Homo sapiens: one gene and its partners. The protein of the gene in region 4 purifies or fractionates together with the protein of the main gene of each other region. This does not show direct contact. Each region holds a gene or a part of one and is shown on either strand. Other genes may lie near its edges.

Region 1 (7,122 bases), on a different chromosome or scaffold from region 4:
GGGCTGTACCTTAGTTATGTTGGGCAGAAAGCTGGAGAGAGCCTAGGAACTTCTGGAGCCTCCACACCAATCCTGGACTGCCTGCCTGTCTTGGTACTTCTACACATAAAAGTACAGCTCTATCTCTTCAACATCGTTATTTTGGGTTTTTCTGTAGTATGTAGATAAACTTAATCCTATCTGATCCAGATTCCTTTTTCTGTGTGATAGTTCACTTGTGGACAAATACTTACTAAGAACACAATACGTTCTAGGTCACATGGGCATAAAGAAGAGTAAAACACAGTTCCTGTCCTGAAGAGATATAGTGCTATATAATCATGTCTTTCTGAAAATATATACAACAGTCCAATGTCCAAAGAACATGTTAAAGGGGGTGACTCCATTTCTAGAAAGCTGAAATTGTTAAATACTTGTCCATTTAGACAAAATTTTAAATATTTTTGTAACATTCTATGTATGTTTTTTAGTTTCAATTTTTTTCTTCAAACTGAATAAACTATTGGCTTTTTTTTTTTTTTTTTTTGAGACGGAGTCTTGCTCTGTTGCCCATGCTGAAGTACAGTGGCACAATCTCAGCTCACTGCAACCTCTGCCTCCTGGGTTCAAGTGATTCTCCTGCCTCAGCCTCCTGAATAGCTGAGATTATAGGTGTGCGCCACCACGCCCGGCTAATTTTTTTGTATTTTTAGTAGAGACTGGCGGGGTTTCACCATGTTGGTCAGGCTGGTCTAGAACTCCTGACCTGATGATCTGCCCGCCTCAGCCTCCCAAAGTGCCAGGATTACAGGCATCAGCCACCACACCCGGCCAACTATTGGCTGTCTTAAAACAATAAATAACTGATTAAGAGGAAAGATTTTCACACCTACTAATTTATATCTGTCTCCGTTATATTAAGTTTATAAGACACTTGTCCGGTAACACTAATATCAGCATTTCGATATTTCTGGATTTTTACATTTCTCCTTACTCGTTTAATTAAAAAAGAACTTGCAAAAATATTCATATGCAACAAAATAGCTAAAGACCAGCATAAAAGCTTTAATATGCAGTCATTAAATACTTAGGCAAAGCACTGTACACCAAGCAATGAAACAAAAAAGGCGTGATTCTGGTTCTTACTTGTTTACAGTCTTAGCAGTGGAGAGAAACATTCATCAATCACATGAATAAATATATAATTAGAAACTGCGGCAAGTGCCATAAATAAAATGGTTACTATGGAAACATTTAATAAGAGGACCAGGAAGTAAAAATGATAATGCACTGTAAGGGTGTCAATATACAACGTTCAAAAAAACAGCTTCTTCAAAATTTGGATACATAAAATTTGAAGGCTACCTGTAAATTCAGTATTGATATATAACTACCTCAGAGTTATGATCAAAGTGCTTCAGAAATCCAGTCCAGACTGGAGAAGTCACAGGCTTCCCAGAGAAGATGATAGCTAAGTGCTAAAGGTTGACCAAAAGTCAGTTCAGTGGAAGAGTTGAGGGAAATTATTCCCGGTAGAAACACCATATCTGGGTAGGAATCCAGAGGAAAAAAAAGTACAAGACCGATTCTCGAGTGATTTTAGAATGGGTGGAGTACAAAGTAAGGGGTTGGGAGAGGAAGGTAATGGAAGATGCACTAAGAAGGTAAGGAGAGATCACATCATAAAGGGCTTTATATGCCATGTGAGGGAGTTTGGGCTTTAATGAAAATAATGAGCTGGGCGCCGTGGCTCATGCCTGTAATCCCAGCACTTTTGAGAGGCCGAGGCAGGCAGATTACGAGGTCAAGAAATCAAGACCATCCTGGCCAACATGGTGAAACCCCGTCCCTACTAAAAATACAAAAATTAGCTGGGCGTGCGCCTGTAGCCCCAGCTACTCGGGAGGCTGAGGCAGGAGAATCGCTTGAACCCCGGAGACGGAGGTTGCGGTGAGCCGAGATAGCGCCACTGCATGCGCTCCAGCCTGGGCGACAGAGCGAGACTCCGTCTCAAAAAAAAAAAAAAAAAAAAAAAAGAGAGAGAAAATAATGACAAATCATTGAAGTTTTTTAAGGGAAGGTGCTAAAGTACGATTTGAGCTTAGACCACATTTAAAATGTCTTAAATACTTAAGGAAAACATTTCACAGAAAAACAAGATAACAAAACAACAAAGACAAGAAAACTTAATCTACCCCTTTTCCCACCCCTTTTATTTGATAATAATTTGTGATTATTCCTCGTTAGTGACAAAAAGACTCAGCCCATCGTATCAAGAGCGTGATTTCAAAACCACAGACTTCGGGTTTTGGATGAAAACAAATCTGTGATCTAGGAAGCTTACGTCATTTTCCCTAGATGCGAAAATTTATTAGTGGAAGTGTCAGAGTTGAAATTATCTTTACCTACCATGATTCGAAATAAGCACCGCCTTCCTCTCGCGCCCCAACACATTAATACATTAACACCACTCCTGAACTAAAGCCTTAAAGAGAACTGGTACCCTTTTGCATACCTAAATAAGAGTTCGAAATTCCAACTTCATGTGGCTGCTGTGGGGAGTAAATGAGAGGAGCCAAACACATAAGAATAGGAAAATGTTAGTTTTAGCATCTGTCATAACAAATCAATGATCAAAAGTGTTAGATATTATCAAAAAGACGTTGTACTACGCTTAAATCACTATTTCGTTAAGACATGCAAGTATGGAGTAGCCAGAAGTGAGAGGACGGCCCTCTGTTCTGAGGGCACAAAACTCCACACATCATCCCTCTTCGGATCTGGCTTGAACCCTCCTACTCAGCGGACGCAGCACTCCAATTCGTCCCGGTACTATGTCTGCAGCTACCTTTCCTCTTCTTGGCCAGTGTTGCCTCCACAGGTAAAGGTCCAACCCAGCGCTCTTCGTTCTCCTCATCGTTCTCCTGGGACACCGCCACTGCTACTGCCAGCTCTCTTTCGCTGAGTTCTGTTTTTTCCGGTTCCTCCGGGTCCCGGCGCCTTCTACGTCTCTGCTGAAAATCGCTACCACTTTCCGCCGCCATGTTGTTCGCATCGTCAGAAAAGGCGCGACACAAAACTCAGCTACCAATCCCAAAGCAGCGGCGCAGTCTTCTGTCAGCGTCCGAGCGAGTTTCGGGATTGGCTGGGGTGGGAATGAGCACATCCAATGGGCATGCAGCGCGCGCAGAAGTCCGGGGCTGGCAAGCGCTTCCTGCGCAGCGCCTAGGCGACCTGGAGTTTGTGACGCTGTGATGGTAAGACCTGGGCCGGGGAGGTTGATATAACGGTTGAATCTTGTGGAGCTCCAGTCCTGAAGGTGAAACCCTTATCGCCGGCCAACTAGATACCTGACTTCCCAGCCGGGCTTTGAGTCCCGTTCTTCTCGGCTTCCCGCGCGCCAACGCAAGCTCCATAACCTCACCAATATTTAGAGAAAGATGGAAGGGTGGGGACAGAAGGAAGTGGTTAACTCGCGGGTTTCCTTTCAGATGCACTAAACATGTTTTCTCTCCTGACCTTTATTCTCTCACACACTCTCTGAAGAAGGTGGTGAGTGCTTGTTACTGTTTCTGGGGGTGGGGTGGAGAAGCAGCTACTTCAAATAACCAAAAGACCTAGGGCAGAACGGGTCACTCTTCTTTCTTCTCTCTGGTATAGGATTTCATCTCCTAGCAGTCATCTGAACTCTTTCTCCTCCTCCTCATCTGTCTTCTTCATTTTTAAAAAATTAGGTAAAAAGCACATAACATAAAATGTATTATCTTAATCTCTTTTTTAAAAAATCAAATACAGCTTGTCAAAATGACCTCCGTAAAACACTTCTTTTTTCTCTGCAATTACTTTTGCACCAACCTAATAAAATCCTCGTCGTAAATCTCTTCTCTACTTTTGCCTTGAGATAGGCACCACGTACAGGGAAGGAACTGCCCCCCCATAGTAGGCACTTTATTTTATTTCAAAGGTTCCCATTATTTGACCATTCTACCTAGCAAGTCTCATTTCTTCTCTGCCCTCTGCTCTCATCAGACTACTTTCTTTTGTGTCTCACAAATTTCCCTTGTTCGTTCTTGCCTCCTACTCTTATGTTTTTATGCTTGAAAGCATCTCCACAGCGATTTAGCCTTCATGTTTACAGCTTCTCATCTTTCAGAGACCAATGCAATAATGAGGATGAAGATGATAATGATAATGATAATAATAATGTAGCTAGTTAACATTTATTAAGCATTATTATGGACTAATTCCTTCCGGGTTGGTTTTTCTAAGCTTCCCTATCCTGAATTCCGATAGTACTTGCAGGCAGTGTTGTATACTTTACCATTTCATAGCACTTCTGACTACCTGAAATCATATCATGTATTTAGTTATCCATTCATTTATATTGTCTGCATGAGAATGGAAGCTCTACAAGTACAAAGACTTTTTCATCTACACAGCTAAAGCCAGTGTCTGACCAATGGCACACATTAACATATTTGTTGAATAAATGAATGTATTTTAGAATTATGTGGGTATTTTTTGCTTATTTCATGTATATTAATCTTTTCCCAATTAATAGTACGAGTTTCTTTAAGTATAGTATTATCCCTAAATAAAGAGATACTGTTTTTCTTCAATAAATGATTAAGTATTGTAGTCCTAACTGGGGACCTCAAAAAGTTGACTTGTTCCCTTTCCAGGAAGATAGGTTTAAGGATACAAAATGTGGGAACGGGAAAAGTTCAACTCTTAAGTGTGTGTGTGTGTGTGTGTGTTTTAATTAAACAACTGAAATTTATTTCTCACAGGTCTAGAGGCTGGAGATTCAAGATCTGGGTGCCATCATTTTCTGGTTCTGTTGATGACCCTCTTCCAGGTTACATACAGCTTACATCTTGCATCCTCAAGCGGTAGAGAGCAAACTCTTAAATGTTTCTATATGTTTTTATTCTACTGCCACATTAAATCGCCAAGCCAGATAATTTGTTGAATATTTATCCCTCACCCTCCGCCCCCACCACATGTGCAGAGTTTTGCATTACTTTTGCATATTGATAATGTATTTTGGTGGTCAGTAAAGAAATATTTATGTTTGACTTTTTCGCTTAAAAATATTCTAAAATTCATGATGACTGATTTTGGCTTTGTGAACTTAAACTGTATCTTATGGGTATAGCAGGTGAGATTTTCAGCCTTCTACTAGTTGACATTCAAATTGTTAATAGCTAACACTGATAAAGCTCTTTATATGCTAGCTACAGTACTTATATATATATATTTATATACTCATTTAATTGTCATAACCCTAGGGAGTATTTAATATTATCTTCATTTTATAGGAAAGGAAACTGAGGCATAGAAAGTTTAAGTGACTTGCCCAAGTCTCATAGCTTTTAAATATCAAAACAGATTTAAACCTGTATAGTCTGGTTGCAGAGTTCATACCTTTAAAGTTTTTTTTTCTCTAAGTAATGTGCCAGTAAACATAATTGTATAGACTTATGCAGACATATCTATCTTTAGGATTATTCCTAAGAATAGAACTTCTGGATCACAAGAAATGCATGTAAAATTTTGATGGATATTATCATACAAAGTGATTGTTCCACCAACAGTGCAAGCCTCTTATTTCACATGCTTGCCAGTATTATCTCTTACCAATTTTACATTATTGCCATTCTGAATGAAAATTAATGCTTGTTTAATTTGGATTTTCATAAATTATATATGAGCTTATGAATGTACTTTTTCTGTATTTAAAAGGTATTTGTTTTTTCTTTGAATTCCTCATTTGTGTTCTTTGCCAGTTTCTATTGAATTGTTTTTGTTGTTTACCTTTTTATTGTAAAAATGCAGACACAAAATAAACGTAAAGTTTACTAATTATTATGAGGTGAACACCCTTACCATCATGCTAGTCAAAAAATAAAACTTTGATAATTACCTCAGAAATCTCTCCATTTGGCCCATCCCAGCCACAACCCTTTTCCCCCTTCCACTCTTCCTCCAAAGTAATTGGTAACCTGACTTTTTTGGTAATCTTTTTTAAATTTTTTTTAATGGTGAGTTGTTTGGTTTCTTCTTATGAATTTGTAGGCACTTGTTATATATTAAGGAAATTAGGTCTTGGGTTGCCATATATATTACAAGTATTTCTCCTAGGTTTGGGGGTTTTAAATTTTAACTTTGTTGATGAGATGTTTGTCCATGCAGAATTAAAAAAAAAATTTTGGTGTAAAGATTTTACTTAGTTTTGCTTAGAAAGGTGTTTCCTAATCTAAGATTTTAAAAGTTTCTGTGTTTTCATCCTATTTTTTTGTGATTTCTATTTTGGGTTTTTTGAGGGAGTGAGGAATGACATAAAGATTCAGGTATGAATTTAGACTTATTTTTTTCTCCGCAAATACTATAAATGTTAAAAAAAAATGAGGAAGATTTATATGGACCAAAATATACATTTAAAAAACAGTATTATATATAAAATATATATCTATTTGGATTATTTTTTTCTCCTTGATTTGCCTTGTCATCTCTGTCATGTGTCATGTGTCCATATGTATGTGAATATAGAAAGTCAAGAAAGGCTTTGTATTGTGTTCCATTGCTCAATTTGCCTATTTATGTGCCAGTTCTACATTGCCATAATAGTGTAGGGTATGTCCTCCCATCTTATTTTTCATGAGGATCTTAGGCTAGTTTTGGCCCTTTGTGCTTCCATGTAAATTTTTTTTTTTTTTTTTTTCTGAGACGGAGTCTCGCTCTGTCGCCCAGGCTGGAGTGCAGTGGCGGGATCTCGGCTCACTGCAAGCTCCGCCTCCCGGGTTCACGCCATTCTCCTGCCTCAGCCTCCCAAGTAGCTGGGACTACAGGCGCCCGCCACTACGCCCGGCTAATTTTTTGTATTTTTAGTAGAGACGGGGTTTCACCCTTTTAGCCGGGATGGTCTCGATCTCCTGACCTCGTGATCCGCCCGCCTCGGCCTCCCAAAGTGCTGGGATTACAGGCGTGAGCCACCGCGCCCGGCCCTTCCATGTAAATTTTACAATTTGCTTGTCAAGTCCCATAAAGAGAAACAAAAACTTTCAGGATTTTGGTTAAGATTCAGTAGCTCAACTTGGGGGAGAATTAACGTCTTTACAATGTGGGTCTTTCAGTCCATGA
Region 2 (7,136 bases), on a different chromosome or scaffold from region 4:
TCACTTTGCTTGTGTTTGTCTTTAATGGTGAGGTGAGTCTCTTGTAGGCAGCAATATGTTGGGTCTTGCTTTTTTGTTGTTTTTTGTTTTTTTTGAGTCAGAGTTTCACTCTTATTGCCCAGGATGGAGTGCAATGGCACAATCTCAGCTCATTGCAACCTCTGCCTCCTGGGTTCAAGTGATTCTCCTGCCTTACTTCCACTCACATAAAGGAAGCCCCGGATTGGTTTATAGATGGCAGCCATCAAAAAACCCTCCCCTCCAAGAGGATATGCCATTACTGAGGGATATCATGATGATACCCACTCTCTCCCACCTAGAAGAGTTGTAGAGGCTGCCCCCTTGCCTTTGGGCACATCCTACCAAAAAGCAGAAATTAATTGCCCTAATAAGAGCATTAACCCTAGCAAAAACCACACAAGTTAATATATACACCAATTCCAAATATGCCTATAACATCAACCATTCCAATGCCCAAATGTGGAGCAAGTGGGGCTATCTCATGGTTAAGGGAACAACTATCATTAATGGAAAACCAATCCATCATCTACTAAAGGCAGCTTTACTTCCAGGAAAGGTTGCAGTTATTCATTGCAAAGACATCAATCAGATAAAAGCTACATTTCTTTAGGGAACTGTGAGGCTGACTATTGTGCTCAACCAATCACCCAATTCCCCAATACCTATTTCCCCTCATACAACATATCCCCTCCTTTTATCCAGAACACCAAATACAACAACTAATCATGGCAAGGGCACAATTCAAACCCCCATACTGGTTCATACAAAACAAATTAGTCCTACCTGACCCTGAAAAAGCAACTCTTTCACAGGACATTCACAACCTCTTCCACACTAGCCATTGCCCTCTACATTTCTTAAGTTCCCATATACACATAACCCCAGATATAAAGGAACAGTTAAAAGCCATTCCCCATCAACGCTCTATTTGCCAGAAAACTTCACCCCACTGCAACACTAGACCCCCTTCTTTCCCAACCTGTCAAGCCAGGGGACACCTTCCAGGACAGGACTGGCAAATTGATTTTACCCATATGCCCCCAGTAAAAAAAGGTTCAATTTCTGGCCGGATGTGGTGGCTCACACCTGTAATCCCAGCACTTTGGGAGGCTGAGGTGAGCGGATCACTTGAGGTCAGGAGTTCAAGGCCAGCCTGACCAACATGGAGAAACCCCATCTCTACTAAAAATACAAAATTAGCTGGGCATGGTGGCGCATGCCTGTAATCCCAACTACTCAGGAGGCTGAGGCAGGATAATCACTTGAACCAAGGAGGTGAAGGTTGCGGTGAGCCAAGATTGCGCCATTGCACTCCAGCCTGGCAACAAGAGCGAAGCTCCATCTCAAAAAAAAAAGAAAGGAAAACAAATGAATCAGCCAGGCACGTTGACTCACGCCTGTAATCACAGCACCCAGGGAGGCTGAGGTGGGCAGATCACTTGAGGTCAGGAGTTCAAGACTGGACTGGCCAACATGGCGAAACCCCATCTCTACTAAAAATACAAAATTAGCTGGGCATGATGGGGCACTCCGGTAGTCCCAGCTACTTGAGAGGCTGCAGCAGGAGAATCGCTTGAACCCAGGAGGCAGAGGTTGCAGTGAGCCACCAAGATCACGCCATTGCACTCCAGCCAGGGTGACAAGAGCAAAACTCTGTCTCAAAAAAAAAAAAAAAGAAAAGAAAAGAAAAAGAATGAATCAAGCTTCCTATCTCCCAGAGCTCTCCTCCTATTCCTTAGGACTTAATCTTTCAGCCAGTATAAACTATTGAGACTTCAGGGCAAGAAAGACGCATGAAACTTGTGACCTACATCTACTGCTTGAAATATTGGGCCAAATTTTCAGATCTATCACTGGGGGTGGTTGGAATATCACATCTCAAAATTATCACACATCCTTACAATTTTTTATGATATCATGAATCCTACCATTTTTTCAACTCAACTCCCAAGGAAGTTAGTAATGACGATGAAACCACCATTGCAAGATTATGACTGAGACCATGAAGGAGATCTAACCTAATGGACTCCATCTTGGTTCTAACTTTAAACTGTCCTTGTTCCTTCCTGGGCATAGGCTAAACTAACTTTGGGAGGAATTTAGTTTATAGTTTAAAACAAAGACAATAACAGCCCTTTCCCAAAACAAACCTCCTCCTTGCCTGGGGACTAGACTGCCTTTATAAGATTAACAAATTAGCCACAAGATTAGAAATTATGGTTTAGGAGTCATGCAGCTGGAGGCCAAGATTCTGACCCTCCCTAAACTGCTCCTGAGACCAGTGCTTGAGATATTTTGCAGACCCTGCACTTGATGGATCAGCTGGTACCACCCAGATAGATAAACAGGCTCATCTGATCTTGTGGCCCCCACCAGGGAACTAACTCAGCGCATGAGGACAGACAGCTTCAACTTCCCATTATTTCATCTCCTACCTAACCAATCAGCGCTTCTGGCTCACTGGCTTCCCCCCACCCACCAGTTGTCCTTAAAAACTCTGATTCCCAAATGCTCGAGGAGACTGATTTAAATAATAATAAAATTTCAGTCTCCCGCACAGCTGGCTCTGCGTGAATTACTCTTTCTCTATTGCAATTCCCCGTCTTGATAAATGGACTGTGTTTAGGTAGCGGGCAAGGTGAACCCACGGGGCATTTACAATGACATCACTTGCCTTTGGATGCCCACTGAACCAGGACTCATTTCTGGGTTCCAATCTAATCCCAGTCACTGAGTTGCTGTGTAACTTGGGGCAAATTACCTTTATCCTCTTGCCTTCAGCTTTTCCTTTGGTAGGAAGGGAGCATTAGAGGAGAGATCATTTCAGTAAGGTCCTTTCTAATCCTAACAGTCTAAACAGATTATTATGAATATTAGAAGGTAATAATAAATGTTGGAGAAATTAACTTCAGTTACTCGTATAATATTTCAAATTACCAAAGGGTTTATATTAGATTTGAGGCTAATTCCAAAGGATATTTAAGGACCATAGCAGCAAGGATTAGGAGGCCCTTTTGGTCTGGACCTCACCTTCACAAGGGCCTCAAATTTAGATTTTTGAGAATATCTCCTTTAAAAGTAATTGTCAAATATGATTATAATAAGTTCATCATTCAACCTTATATATATATTTTAGAATCCTCTTATGCCTTTAGGAATAGCACAGTTAGTTCGTCCTATACTTTTTTAGGTGTTGAAAGTATTGTCAAAAAACATTTAAAATATGCCATTATTTTTGACATGCAGTTTGGGGTTATTTTAATTTTTTTTTTTTTTTTTTTTTTTTTTTTTGAGACGCAGTCTCTCTCTGTCGCTCAGGCTGAAGTGCAGTGGTACAATCTCAGCTCACTGCAACCTCTGCCTCCTGGCTTCAAGCGATTCTCCTGCCTCAGACTCCCAAGTAGCTGGGATTACAGGCGCCCGCCTCCATGCCCGGCTAATTTCTGTATTTTTAATAGAGACGGGGTTTCACCATGTTGGTCAGGATGGTCTTGAATTCCTGAACTCAAGCAGTCCACCCGCCTCGGCCTCCCAAAGTGCTGGAATTATAGGTGTGACCCACCACACCCAGCCTGGGGTCATTTTAATTTTAACGTACTAATGAAAGAAGTCTGAACTCCCTCCCTACCTCTGAGGATAATTTCCTTTTACTAGGAATTTACTCTGCAACTGGCACTTTGCTAACATTGCCTGTCATATTTTTTTTTTTTGAGTCCAGCTTCTGCAGAAGCCTGCCTAATGTTTACAAACCTACGATGCAGCCACTACAATTATCCCCATTTCAAGGTCGAAGAAATGGAGATTTATAGAAGTTGTCAAATCGCTTACTAGCACACAGCTAATAAGTAGTAAAGCCATCTCTCAAATCCAGGAAATCTAACTGCCCTGCCTGAGCTCTGAGTCAAGGGTCCTACTTTGGCTGCCAGCCAGCGACGACTTCAAGGGTAAGATCCTATGCGGGCCGTAAGGACTCTTCCCCTCCCCCTCTCCCACTTCTTCTATCCCAAAGTCGCTCTTCCCAATTCAGGGAGCTGGGACCACCCTGAGCCAGCGGCCCTGCGCATGCTCAACCGCAGAGCACGACGGGAGAGGGGCGGGGTCGGCGGGGCCGTTTCGCTTCGAAGATTGTTTCAGAAGCGTTGGGCGGGGCGTCCCTGAGAGAAATTAGTAAGCCTCCTCATGCGGCTCTGGTTTCGGTCTTTACTCCTGCGCCTTACTCGAAAGGGGCAGGGTTTCTGCTGTCGGTCGGAGGGAGGATGACGCGCCGGGTCGGGGTTTTAGAGACGGAGCTTTGAGTGCGGATTCCGCCAGATGGGGGTCGGGAACTCCGGGCCAGGCCCTGACGTGGATTGTGTTTGCCGCCTCCTTTAACCTTGCCCTCATAGACTGGGGGGGTTAGTGCTCCCCGCTTCCAGCGATTCTCGCCGCCTCCTGCTCCTGTGTAGTAACTGGGCCTTCAGACTTTAGTCTCGCTCCGCAGCCTCCGTTTCAGAAGCCCCATCACACCTGTATCTCTCCTTCATTGAGCAGTGATTTTTCAAAAGTTTGACTCCTGGCCGGGCGTGGTGCCTCAAGCCTGTAATCCCGACACTTTGGGAGGCCCAGGCGGGCGGATCTCTTGAGGTCAGAAGTTCGAGACCAGCCTGGCCAACATGGCAAAACCCCGTCTCTACTAAAAGTACAAAAATTAGCTGGGCTTGGTGGCAGGCGCCTGTAATCTCAGCTACTCAGGAGGCTGAGGCAGGAGAATCGCTTGAACCGGGAGGCAGAGGTTGCATTTAGTCGAGATCGTGCCACTGCACTCCAGAGCGAGACCCCGTCTCAAAAAAAAAAATGAAATGTTTGCTGAACCCCAAAAGCACAGTTTGAACGCTGCTGATTTACAAGATTAATTTTAAGGTATTTGGTATCAGGGACCTTCCTGACATGACCCATGTCTACTTTTCAAACTTTCCAGTTCCTTCTACTAGCACTCTTGCACTTGTACTTTATCTGCAACAACAGTCCCACTCCTTCTAGTTCCCATATATTTGTGCTTCTTTTTTTTTTTTTTTTTTTGGAGACTGGGTCTCGCTCTTTGGCCCAGGCTGAGTGCAGTGACACGATCACGGCTCACAAGCAGCCTCAGCCTTCCGAGCTTAAGCGATCCTCCCACCTCAGGTTCCAGAGTAGCTGGAACAACAGGTGCTCCCCACTACGCCCAGCTAATTTTTGTATTTTTTGTAGAGACAGGTTATCTTCATGTTGCCTAGGCTGGTCTCGAACTCCTGAATCGAAGCAATCCACCTGCTTGGGCCTCTCAAAGTGCTGGGATTACAGGCTTGAGCCACTGTGCCCGGCTATTTGTGGTTTTGTACATGCTGTCTCTATACCAGGAATATCCGCCATCATTGGTTGGTAGACACTTTAAAACCCAGCTCAAATTTCACCTCCCAGAAGACTGACCGTCTTCTTTTTTCATTTCTTCTCAGTACCTTGTATATACTTACTGGTTGGGACATCCTACTCATCAGTGTAACCCGGTACCAAGGCACTTCGGAAATGATGGCTCTTCATTGCCTGCAGAATTAACCATGGACATTTTAGTTTGGTTTGAAAAACATATAGCCTTCTGCCTCCAGCCTTCCCATCAGGCTAGTAAAAGACCTTGCAGAACTCAGTTGAATAAAATAATTTTTTTTTTTTGAGACAGCATTTCACTCTTGTCTCCCAGACTGGAGTGCAGTAGCGCGATCTCAGCTCACTGCAACCTCCACCTCCAGTTCAAGTGATTCTCCTGCCTCAGCCTCCCAAGTAGCTGGGATTACACCACACCTGGCTAATTTTTGTTTAGTAGAGACAGGGTTTCACCATGTTGGCCAGGCTGGTCTAGAACTCCGACCTCAGCTGATCCACCCTCTCAAAGTGCTGGGATTGCAGACAGGAGCCACCGTGCCCGGCCGAATAAAATAAATCTTAGCAAAGTGTAATGTATAAAGAAGTGGTATAATGCGAAGAAATAAGGGATAGGAGTATATCTGCTTCCAGACTCTGTTTTGTTTTTGCTTGTGTCCATACCACACTATCTTAATTTACTGTAGCTTTATAAGCCCTTCCAACATTTTTTTTTTTTGATATTGTCTTGGTTATGCTAGGCTCTGTATGCACATTGTATATACATTAGAATTACCTTACAAATTCCACAAAAACCCCTGCTGGGATTTTCATCTACAGCTTAATTAGGAGAAAAATTAATATTGACTCTTTCCATCAATGAGCATTTATTTAGATCTTCCTTAATTTCTCTCAGCAATGTTTTGTTTTCACTGTAGAGTTCTTTAATAGCTTTCATTAGATTTATTCCTATATTTGATATTTATGATGCTGCAGAAAATGGTTATTTTTATATTTTTCTGTTCTAGTATAAAGAAATAAAATTGATTTTTTGTTTGTTTGTTTGAGACGGAGTCGCACTGTGTCACCCAGGCTGGAATGCAGTGGCACAATCTCGGCTCACTGTAGCCTCTGACACCCAGGTTCAAGTGATTCTCCTGTTTCAGCCTCCTGAGTAGCTGGGATTACAGGTGCCCACCACCATGCCCAGCTAATTCTTTTGTATTTTTAGTAGATACGGGTTTCACCATGTTAGGCTGGTCTTGAACTCCTGACCTCAGGTAATTCACCCATCTCTGCCTCCCAAATTGCTAGGATGACAGGCGTGAGCCACTGCACCTGGCCAAAATTTATTTTCGAATGTCTTGCTAAGCTTAATAACTTGGAGATTCTTTTGAATTTTCTTTGTATAGAATCATGTCATCCATGAATAATAACAATTTTAACTGCCTTTTCAAAGTTTGTCTTTTATTTTTTCTTGCTTTATTGATCTAACTAGAACTTCTACTACAATGTTGAAGATAAGTGATAAGAAAAATTCTAAAATGCGGATCTTGTATTATCCTATAATTCTGCTGAATTCACTTATTCTAATAGTTTCTTTTGCGGGGGGTGAGTTGGGGGAGGTTCCTTAGAGTTTTCTATATGCAGTCATGTCTACAAATAAAAAGTTTTCTTCCTTTCCAACTTTTTTTTTTTTTTAAATGGAGTCATGCGCTGTCACCCAGGCTGGAGTGCAGTGG
Region 3 (7,038 bases), on a different chromosome or scaffold from region 4:
TTTCCACCTTTTGCTTATTTTGAGTAGTACTTCTCTGAACATTTGCATACAAGTTTTGGTCTGAACATCTGATTTCAGTTCTTTACCTGGGAGTGGAATTACTGGGTCATACACAGTCAATTCTGTGTTTAACTTAACCGAACCGCGAAACTTCCACAGTGGTTGTACCGATTTACATTCCCACCAGTGATGTATGAGGGTTCAAATGCTTCATCATCCTCATAAACAGGTACTATTTTCTGTTTTTCTGGTTAGGCCCTCCTACTTGGGTGTGAAGTGATGCATCTTTGTAGTTTTGATTTGCATTTTCCTAGTGACTAATGAGTTCAGCGTCTTTTCATGTGCTCGTTGCCTCTTTTCCTTTTATTGATCAATAATATGCCATCATATCTCTGTATCTACCACATTTTTAATTTGCATTCATCTGCTGATAGACATTTGGGTCATTTCTACTTTTTGGCTATTATAATGTTGCTATGAACATTAGTGTAGTAGTTTTTGTGTGGGCATTTATTTTTATTTCTCTTGGTTATAGAGCAAGAAGTGGGATTGTTGGGTTGTGTGGTAACTTTTAACTTTTTATTATTATTATTATTTTTTTTTTGAGACGGAGTCTCTCTGTGTTGCCCAGGCTGGAGTGCAGTGGCGCCATCTCGGCTCACTGCAACCTCTGCCTCCTAGGTTCAAGCGATTCTTGTGCCTCAGCCTCTGAGTCACTGGGATTACAGACGCCCACCACCACACCCGGCTAATTTTTTGTATTTTTTAGTAGAGACTGGGTTTCGCCAAGTTGGCCAGGCTGGTCTTGAACTCCTGACCTCAGGTGATCCACCTACCTCGGCCTCCCAAAGTGCTGGGATTACAGGCTTGAGCCACCGCACCCAGCTCTTTTAACTTTTATTTATTTATTTATTTTTAATGAGGTCTCACTCTGTAACACAGACTGTATTGCAGTGCAATCATGGCTCACTGCAGCCTTGAACTCCTGGGCTCAAGCAATCCTCCCGCCTCAGCCTCCTGCCACTACAGGCACATGCCACAACACGAGGCTAATTAAACAAAATTTTTTTGCTGGGCGTGGTGGCTCACGCCTGTAACCTCAGCACTGTGGGAGGCCAAGGCTGGCGGATCACGAGGTCAGGAGATCGAGACCATCCTGGCTAACGTGGTGAAACTCCGTCTCTACTAAAAATACAAAAAATTAGCCGGGCATGGTGGCGGATGCCTGTAGTCCCAGCTACTCGGGAGGCTGGGGCAGGAGAATGGCATAAACCCGGGAGGCAAAGGCAGGAGAATGGCACGAACCCGGGAGGCAGAGCTTGCAGTGAGCTGAGATACGCCACTGCACTCCAGCCTGGGTGACAGAACGAGACTCCGTCTCCAAAAAAAAAAAAAAATTTGTGGAAATGGAGTCCCACTTTGGTGCCCAAGCTGGTCTTGAACTCCTTGCTTCAAGTGATCCTCCTGCCTTGGCCCCCTGAAATGCTTGGATTGCATGAATGAAACTGTTCATGGCCTTTTTTTGGCTTTTTTTTTTTTTTTTTTTTTAAGATGAGGGTCTTGCTATGTTGTGTAGGCTGTCCTTGAACTCCTGGGCTCAATCAATACTCCTGCCCCAGCTTCCCTGGTAGCTGGGACTGTAGGCACGAACCACCATGTCTGTGTTTAATATTTTGAGGAATTGTCAGGTTACTTTCCAGAGTGGCTGCGCTATTTTACATATTCACAAGCAGTATATGAGGATTCCAATTGCTCTATGTCCCTATACTTGTTACTGCCTTTTTTCTTTTAGCCATCCTAGTGGGTGCGAAGTGGTGTCTTATGTTTTGATTTGTGTTTCATTGATGACTAATCACGTTAAACATCTTTTTGTGTACTTATTGGCCATTCATATATCTTTTTTGAGAAATGTCTGTTTAAATCCTTTGCGTGCTTTTAAATTGAGTTGCCTTTTGTTATTGAGTTGTGATCTTTTTTTGGTCTTGTTTTTGTTTTGTTTTTTTTTTTCAGACGGAGTCTCACTCTGTCACCCAGGCTGGAGTGCAGTGATGCCATCTCGGCTCACTGTAACCTCCGCCTCCCAGGTTCAAGCGATTCTCCTGCCTCAGCCTCCCGAGTAGCTGGGACTACAGGCGCACACCGCCACGCCTAGCTAATTTTTTTTTTTTTTTTTTTTTGGTATATTTAGTAGAGACGGGGTTTCACTATGCTGGCCAGGCTGGTCTCAAACTCCTGACCTTGTGATACGCCCACCTCAGCCTCCCAAAGTGCTAGGATTACAGGCGTGAGCCACTGCATCCAGCCAAGTTGTGTTCTTTATATATACTGCATATAAGTCCCTTATTAAATATATGATTTGCAAATATTTTTTCTAATTTCTATGGCTTTTAATTTTATTGGTGGTATCATTTTCAGTACAAAAGCTTTTCATGTTGATGTAGTCCAATTTCTTCTTCTTCTCCGCCTTCTTATTCTTATCAGTGAAGCAGGGTTCTTGCTTTGTTGCCCAACCTGGAGTGCAGTGGTGTGATTGTAGCTCACTGTAGCCTTAAACTCCTGGTCTCAAGTGATCTTTTTGCCTCAACATCCCCAGTAGGTACAACTGCAAGTTGTACCACCACACCCAGCTAATTTTTTTGGTATTTTTTGTAGAGTTGGGGTCTTACTATGTTACCCAGGCTGACCTTGAACCTTTAGCCTCAAGCAGTCCTGCTTCAGCTTCCCAGAGTACTGGGATTACAGGTGTGAACCACCTGGCCCCAACATTGTACTATTTTTTTTTTGACGCTTTTGGTCTTGTAAGAAGCCACACCTCACCCAAGGTTTGAGCAGTTTTAATTAATGAATTAGTTAATTTTATGAGACAAGGTCTGGCTCTGTTGCCCAGGCTGGAGTACAGTGGTGCAATCTTGGCTCAATGCAACCTCTGCCTCCCAGGGGCTCAAGCCATCCTCCTACTTCAGCATCCCGAGTAGCTGTGACTACAAGCATGCTCCACCACACTCGGCTAATTTTTGGTGTTTTGTTTTTTTTTTTCAGATGGAGTCTGGCTCTGTTGTCCAGGCTGAGTGTAGTGGCGCAATCTTGGCTCACTGCAACCTCCGCCTCCCATGTTCAAGCGATTCTCCTGCCTCAGCCTCCTGAGTAGCTGGGATTACAGGCATGCACCACCACACCTGGCTAATTTTTTTTTTTTTTCTTTGAGACAGAGTTTCACTCTTGTTGCCCAGGCTGGAGTGCAGCGGCACAAACTCGGCTCACTGCAGCCTCCGCCTCCCAGGTTCAAGCAGTTCTCCTACCTCAGCCTCCCGAGTAGCTGGCATTGCAGGCACCACGCCCGGCTAATTTTTGTATTTTTAGTAGAGATGGGGTTTTGCCATATTGGCCAGGCTGGTCTCGAACTCCTGACCTCAAGTGATCCCCCCGCCTTGGCCTCCCAAAGTGCTGGGATTACAGGCGTGAGCCACTGTGCCTGGCCCTGTCAGCTTTTATTTAGATATCCAAAAAGCTCTCTTTCTACTCACTTTCTTCTTTTTTTTTTTTTTTTTTTTTTTTTTGAGACAAGACACTATTCACTTTCTCCTTTTTTATAGAGACAGAGTCTTGTCACATTGCCCAGGCTGGTCTCAAACTCCTGGGCTCTAGCAGTCCTCCCTCCTCAGCCTCCTAAATTGCTGGGATTCCAGACATGAGCCTTTCTCCTTTTGTTTATTTCTTCTCTTTGCAAGAAGAGACTAAATAAATAAATAGTATCACCAATATGTATTTTTCATACTTTATGCAACAATTTGTTATGAGATACCAAAGCTGAAGAATGAGGTGTTTGACCATATTCAAAGACCACATGTGTCAGGACTGTTTACATTTCTGAAAGTACTTAGGGCAATCACAGGATGAAAGCAGTGTGTACTAAATCCTCTGTCCACAGAATTCTGCAAATATTATGTGTCTTGAGGGCAGACTTGTTTGTTAACAGTGAGGTTGGTGGTCAAGTAAGTTCCTGGAAGTAAAATTGTTGGGTAAGGGATGTGTGTTTTTCATATTGATCCATGTTGCTAAATTGCCCCTCAGAATGAGGGTTTCTCTTTACATTTCCCTGTCAATGTGTAAGAGTATCTTACATATACATCATACCCTCACCAACATAATGTGTTAGTCACACTTTCTGATCTAAGTGCAAAGGGTTTCATATGTTTAATATGTATTTATTTTGTTACAATTTCTTTTTGTTACAGTTAATCTTTTGATGTGAAATTTGTTTTGTTTTGTTTTTGAGACGGGGTCTTACTATGTTGCTTAGGCTGGTCTCAAACTCCTGGGCTCAAGGGATCTTCCTTCCTCAGCTTCCTGAATAGCTGGGATTACAAGTGCATGTCACCATGCCCAGCCTTGATATGAATTTTCAAAGGCTGGATTTACTTATGCTTCCAGCCGTGTATAGGGAGTACAATGTCTGTTTTGTTCTCATTAGGGAAACATCATATGACTATTACTAAATTAAAACATTACAGAAATGTGTGAAGCACTCTAGAAAGCCAGTGTCATGCCACCTTACTTCAGTGGCTTTGTAGCTCTAGTCCCAAAACCCTAATGAGGGCCACGCACGGTGGCTTACGCCTGTAGTCCCAACACTTTGTTAGGCCGAGGTGGGAGGATTACTTGAGGTCAGGAGTTTGAGACCAGTCTGGTCAACATGGCAAAAACCCATTTCTACTAAATTAGCCGGGCATGGTGGCGGCATACACCTGTAATTCCAGCTACTCAGGAGGCTGAGGCGCGAGAATTGCTTGAACCCAGGAGGTGTAGGTTGCAGTGAGCCAAGATTGAGCCACTGCACGCCAACCTGGGTGACAGAGTGAGACTCTGTCTCAATAAAAACCAACCAACCAAACAAAATAACCCTAACGAGGACCCATAGTTCCAGCTACACTGGAGACTGAGGTGGGAGGATGGCTTAAGCTTGGGAGGTGGAGGTTGCAGTGAGCCAAGACCATGCCACCGCACTCCAGCTTGGGCGATAGAGCAAGACCCTGTCTCAAAGGAAAAAGAACAAAGGGGAGTCACAATACATACTTTGTTGCAACTTGTTTCTATTCATGCATGTAGAGCTGCCTTATTTATTTATTTATTTATTTATTTATTTATTTATTTATTTATTTTTGAGAGAGTCTAGCTTTGTTGCCCAGGCTGGAGTGCAGTGCGTGAATTTGGCTCACTGCAACCTCCGCCTCCCAAGGTTCAAGTGATTCTTGGGCCTCAGCCTCCGGAGTAGCTGGGACAACAGGCATGGGCCACCATGCTTGGCTAATTTTTGTAGTTTAGTGGAGACGGGGTTTCACCATGTTGGCCAGGCTGGTCTCAAACTCCTAACTTCAGGTGATCTGCCCACCTCAGCCTCCCGAAGTGTTGAGATTACAGGTGTGAGCCACCGCACCTGGCTATTCTTTTTTCGTTTGTTTGTTTTGAGACAGAATCTTGCTCTGTTGCCAGGCTGGAGTACAGTGGTGCAATCTCGTCTCACTGCAACCTCTGCCTCCCGGGTTCAAGCAATTCTCCTGCCTCAGCCTCCTGAGTAGCTGGGACTACAGGGGCGCCCCACCACACCCGGCTAATTTTTGTATTTTTAGTAGAGATATGGTTTCACTGTGTTGGCTAGGATGGTCTCGATCTCCTGACCTCGCGATCTGCCCACCTTGGCCTCCCAAAGTGCTGGGATTACAGGCATGAGCCACTGCGACCGGTCCTATTCTTTCTTAAAAAATATTCTTATGTATGTTTATGATATATAACATAGCATACATACAGATAGTAAAATGGTAACTGTAATGAAGCAGATTGACATCTGTTATCTCACAGTTACAAATTTTGTGTGTGGCAAGAGAAGCTAAAATCTCATTTAGCAGGAGCCCCAAATACATACCTGCCTTATTATTATTATTATTATTATTATTATTATTATTATTATTATTTTGAGACGGAGTCTCGCTCTGTCACCCAGGCTGGAGTGCAGTGGCGTTATCTGCTCTCACTGCAACCTCCACCTTTTGGGTTCAAGTGATTCTCCTGCCTCAGCCTCCCGAGTAGCTGGGATTACAGGCGCATGCCACCATACCCACCTAATTATTGTATTTTTAGTAGAGCCACCACACCCAGCCAGTTACATAGTTTTTTAAAAATAGAGATGGGGTCTTGCTTTGCTGCCCTGACTGGTCTTGAATTCCTGGCTTCAAGCAGTCCTTCCACCTTGCCCTCCCAAAGTGCTGGGATTACAGGTGTGAGCCACTGTGCCTAACCTTCATTATAATTTATTTAACCAGTTTCCTGTTGATGGACTTTGGGGTTTCCGGTTTTTGATAATACAACCCGTGCTGCCCTAGCCAGCCCTCTGCATCGATCTTGAGTGTTGAGTGAGTGTTTTCACTTAGGTTGCTAGATGAGAAATTGCTGAGGTAAAGGGACTGCTTAGAATTTTGATAGATGTCAAAAGTTCATACCATTTATCCTGGTCCTCTAGAGTGAGTGTGCCTATTACCTTATACAAAGCATTTCTATTCCCAGCTTCCATCTGATTAGCGAAAAATAGCATCTTATTTTCATTTGCCATTTTTTGCTGGTGACATTGAGCATCTTTTTAATTTTATTTTTTAGTTTTATAGAGATAGGATCTCATGTTTTGCCCAGGCCGGTCTTGAACTCCTGGGCCCAAGAAATCCTCAGCCTTGGCCTCCCAAAGTGCTGGGATTACAGGCGTGAGCCACTGTGTCCCTTCTCCTTTTTATATTTACTTGCCATTTGTATTTCTCCTGTGAATTGTGTGTTCTGGATTGTTGGTCATTTTCTTACTGATTTTCAAGAGCTTATTGAATATTTCTTTCTTTTTTTTTTTTTTTTTTTTGAGACCGAGTCTCAGTCTGTTGCCCAGGCTGGAGTGCAGTGGTGTGATCTCAGCTTGCTGCAACCTCTGCTTCCTGGGTTCAAGCGATTTTCCTGCCTCAGCCTCCCAAGTAGCTGAGACTACAGGTGCCTGCCACTATGCCT
Region 4 (3,681 bases):
ATAAAGGGCACAGTACCTAGTACCTGTAAAGGGTAAATAGTAGTAGGTGCTTAAATGTTTGGTATCATCACAGCCTTACTATTCTTATCTCTTAGGTGAGAGACTTTGCCTGTTTCATCACTCATAAAATTAGGAGTAAGAATAAACTACCTCATAAGATAGCTCTGAGGATTAAGCTCAACTTGGGTCTTATCTGGATATAAAGCCTGGCCAGCATCTCTTAACTTTAGAGAGCCCTAAATCAGGACCAGGAAATAGCTCATTCATTTATGCCTTATCATCTCCACTGCACTTAACTCCTAGTCTATAATAACTCTGCCCTGAGCTAGAGGCCAGCCTTGAGATCCTTTTTTTTTTTTTAAACTCGCTGAGGCCTCGCAAAACACTTTTTAAGCCATAAAGCACTCCTATGTGAGATACAGCCTGTCATCACCTTTACCACCTCTTCCTCATGTAAACAGCCCTATCTGAAACTCTCTTATGTGTGCCCTCACCTTCTACCCTTCAGATTCACTACAGAAACTTCCTTCTTGGCCTGCATACATACCTGCAAACAACCTCTCCTCTCTCCCAGCGGCGAACACTAGACTTAGAGCCTCAGGGGCGTGAACTCTCCTTGTTGACCTCTGTAGCCTTGTGACCGTATTGTGAATATGCGGCTAACCAAGAAGAGTCTACTTGATATTTGCTTTTACACCATAACTGCCCCCCCATCACTATCACCAAACCAAGGCATTTGAAAAATCAAATTCTTCTTAGTTACAAAATGGGAAAAAATAGAAATGGAGATTAATTAGACTCTGTCCCAAAAGTATGTTTCTACTTCTTAGCTCTTCTTTCTTCCTTGACTTTTTTCCAGACTTTTTCTTGTCTCCTTTACTTCTGTTTAGTAAGCCTCTATTCATTTATCAATTTTATTACTTTACTCTCAAAAAGAAGCTAGCTATTGTGTGATTTTTTTTTTATATATAGCAAGCATATTTCAGATTTTTTTAACCACAGCATTTAACCTGAAAAAATGAATTTTTAAAAAATCAAATGATCTTGGCTGGGCACGGTGGCTCACGCCTATAATCCCAGCACTTTGGGAGGCTAAGGCAGGTGGATCACTTGGGTCAGGAGTTCAAGACCAGCCTGGCCAACATGGTGAAACCCTGTCTCTACTAAAAATTCAAAAATTAGCCAGGTGTGATACGCGCCTGTAATCCCAGCTACTGGGGAGGCTGAGGCACGAGAATCACTTGAACCAGGGAAGCAGAGGTTGCAGTGAGCCAAGATCATGCCACTACACTCCAGCCTGGGCAACAGAGCAAGACTCTGTCAAAAAAAAAAAAAAAGTCAAATGACCTTGAGTTATCTTAAAGCAATTGGTTTCTGTTCTCCTTAGGCTATAGGGAGCATTACAACAGATAAAACATAAAATGTGCTATGGACATTTAAAAACAAAAAGGCAACACACTCTTTTTTTTTTTTTTTTTTTTTTTTTCCTTTTTGAGATGGAGTCTCGCTCTGTCGCCCAGGCTGGAGTGCAGTGGCGTGATCTCGGCTCACTGCAAGCTCCACTTCCCGGGTTCACGCCATTCTCCTGCCTCAGCCTCCTGAGTAGCTGGGACTACAGGCGCCCGCCATCATGCTCGGCTAATTTTCTGTATTTTTAGTAGAGACGGGGTTTCACCGTGTTGGCCAGGATGGTCTCGATCTCCTGACCTCGTGATCCACCCGCCCTGGCCTCCCAAAGTGCTGGGGTTACAGGTGTGAGCCACCACGCCCGGCAACACACTCTTTTTCCCTTTTTAAGGAAGAGAAAGGCAGAGAGCACCAAGCAGATAGGAGGCAGGGAGCTGGAAGTCCTCCCTTTGATAAAGGAGGCAGTTAGTTGAGAGTCCTCTAAAGAGGCTATAGATTGATGCAGCTGGGAAACGGATGGGAAGAGGTGAAGGTTGCAGAGCCAGGAAGGGCACAGTTTTTTTTGCCTTTAGAAACCTCCCTTTTCCTTAACCCTAATGATTCTTTCATGTTTTTCCCTTTCTTCACAACATCATTCCCTGATTCCTTGAAAATATGAAAAATCCTAAAAAGACCATGCATTGTAATTGCTTTCATTTTTTCAATAAAACTTCTTTAGTGTTTCATTATGGAGAAATTAGGGGAAAAAAAGCAGATAAATGGGAGAAATTAAAAAGAAGAAACCCTCTCCTCTGTATAGTCCCATCACCAAGAGATAACTGTTGGCAATATCCAGTAAATATTCTTCGAATGTTTGTCATATATATAGTTGTTTTTAAGCATTTGTTTTCATTCCAGAAATATACATTTTAATCTAAGTGTCATTTCTTCATACATCCAGAACAGGTATATTTACATTTTCTGTCAGTTGTTACAGAAGATGGCCCAGAGCCCAAGGACAAAGGATCATTGCCACAACCACCCATTACTGAAGTGGAATCACAGGTGTTCTCAGAAAAACTTGCTACTGACACCTCTACATTTGAAGCTACCTCTGAGGGTACCTTAGAACTGCAGCAGAGAAATCCCAAAGCGGAGAGACTGAGGTGGTCCCCTGCCCAGGAGGAAAGTTTCAGGCAGATGGTTGTCATCCATAAGGAAATTCCCACAGGGAAGAAAGACCATGAATGTAGTGAATGTGGTAAAACCTTCATTTATAACTCACATCTTGTTGTCCACCAGAGAGTTCATTCTGGAGAGAAACCCTATAAGTGTAGTGACTGTGGGAAAACTTTCAAACAGAGCTCAAACCTCGGTCAGCATCAGAGAATTCATACAGGAGAGAAACCCTTCGAATGTAATGAATGTGGGAAGGCCTTCAGATGGGGTGCTCATCTTGTTCAGCATCAGAGGATTCACTCAGGAGAGAAGCCCTATGAGTGTAATGAGTGTGGGAAGGCCTTTAGTCAAAGCTCATATCTAAGTCAGCATCGGAGAATTCACAGTGGAGAGAAACCTTTTATATGTAAAGAATGTGGGAAAGCTTATGGATGGTGCTCAGAGCTCATTAGACATCGGAGAGTTCATGCCAGAAAAGAGCCTTCCCATTGAATTGAAGGGGAGAACGTCTCCAGACAGAATTCTACATCGGTCTAATCTACTTTAGGACTGGATCCCATAAAAGTTATAAGTTCCTTAAGATTTTTCCTGTGTCTTTCTTGATTTTGGAAAAACTGTTTACTTAGTTCTGCCTGTAGATCATCCCTTCATGTCCTCTGATGAAGATACTGATATTAATTAGGATGCTTTGGATGCAAGTAGTAGCCAAGTTGTTTTGCTTCTTTCCAGCATGATCTGCCTAGTTTGCCCACCAATAATGTCTACCTCATTAGAATTTTGTTGTTGTTGTTGTTTGAGACGGAGTCTTGCTCTGTCGCCAGGCTAGAGTGCAGTGGCACGATCTCAGTTCACTGCAACCTCCACCTCCCGGGTTCAAGCAGTCCTCCTGCCTCAGCCTCCCAAGTAGCTGGGACTACGGGCATGTGCCACCATGCCCAGCTGATTTTTTATATTTTTAGTAGAGACGGGGTTTCACCATGTTGGTCAGGCTGTTCTCGATCTCTTGACCTCGTGATCTGCCCACCTCTGCCTCCCAAAGTGCTGGGATTACAGGCCTGAGCCACCATGCCTGGCTACTTCATTAGAATTTTTTTTTTTTTTTTTTGGAGATGGAGT

Evidence for each region.
Region 1: the proteins of ZNF232 (region 4) and PPWD1 purify together in Homo sapiens (affinity purification with mass spectrometry; 2 studies listed by BioGRID and IntAct, with this or other methods). This does not show direct contact.
Region 2: the proteins of ZNF232 (region 4) and ZMYM1 purify together in Homo sapiens (affinity purification with mass spectrometry; 2 studies listed by BioGRID and IntAct, with this or other methods). This does not show direct contact.
Region 3: the proteins of ZNF232 (region 4) and USP48 purify together in Homo sapiens (affinity purification with mass spectrometry; 3 studies listed by BioGRID and IntAct, with this or other methods). This does not show direct contact.

Annotation. Positions count from the first base shown.
Region 1 is NC_000005.10:65,559,212-65,566,333, reverse strand, and holds the start of PPWD1 (peptidylprolyl isomerase domain and WD repeat-containing protein 1), read right to left. Parts: upstream 3,039-7,122; 5' UTR 3,024-3,038; coding exon 2,828-3,023; intron 2,532-2,827; coding exon of another isoform or gene 2,495-2,531; intron 1-2,494. Other genes in the region: CENPK (centromere protein K), read left to right, coding at 4,823-4,837. UniProt on the Homo sapiens protein: PPIase that catalyzes the cis-trans isomerization of proline imidic peptide bonds in oligopeptides and may therefore assist protein folding. May be involved in pre-mRNA splicing.
Region 2 is NC_000001.11:35,075,255-35,082,390, forward strand, and holds the start of ZMYM1 (zinc finger MYM-type protein 1), read left to right. Parts: upstream 1-4,130; 5' UTR 4,131-4,188; intron 4,189-7,136.
Region 3 is NC_000001.11:21,773,112-21,780,149, reverse strand, and holds part of USP48 (ubiquitin carboxyl-terminal hydrolase 48), read left to right. Parts: intron 1-7,038.
Region 4 is NC_000017.11:5,105,200-5,108,880, reverse strand, and holds the end of ZNF232 (zinc finger protein 232), read left to right. Parts: intron 1-2,347; coding exon 2,348-3,057; 3' UTR 3,058-3,145; downstream 3,146-3,681.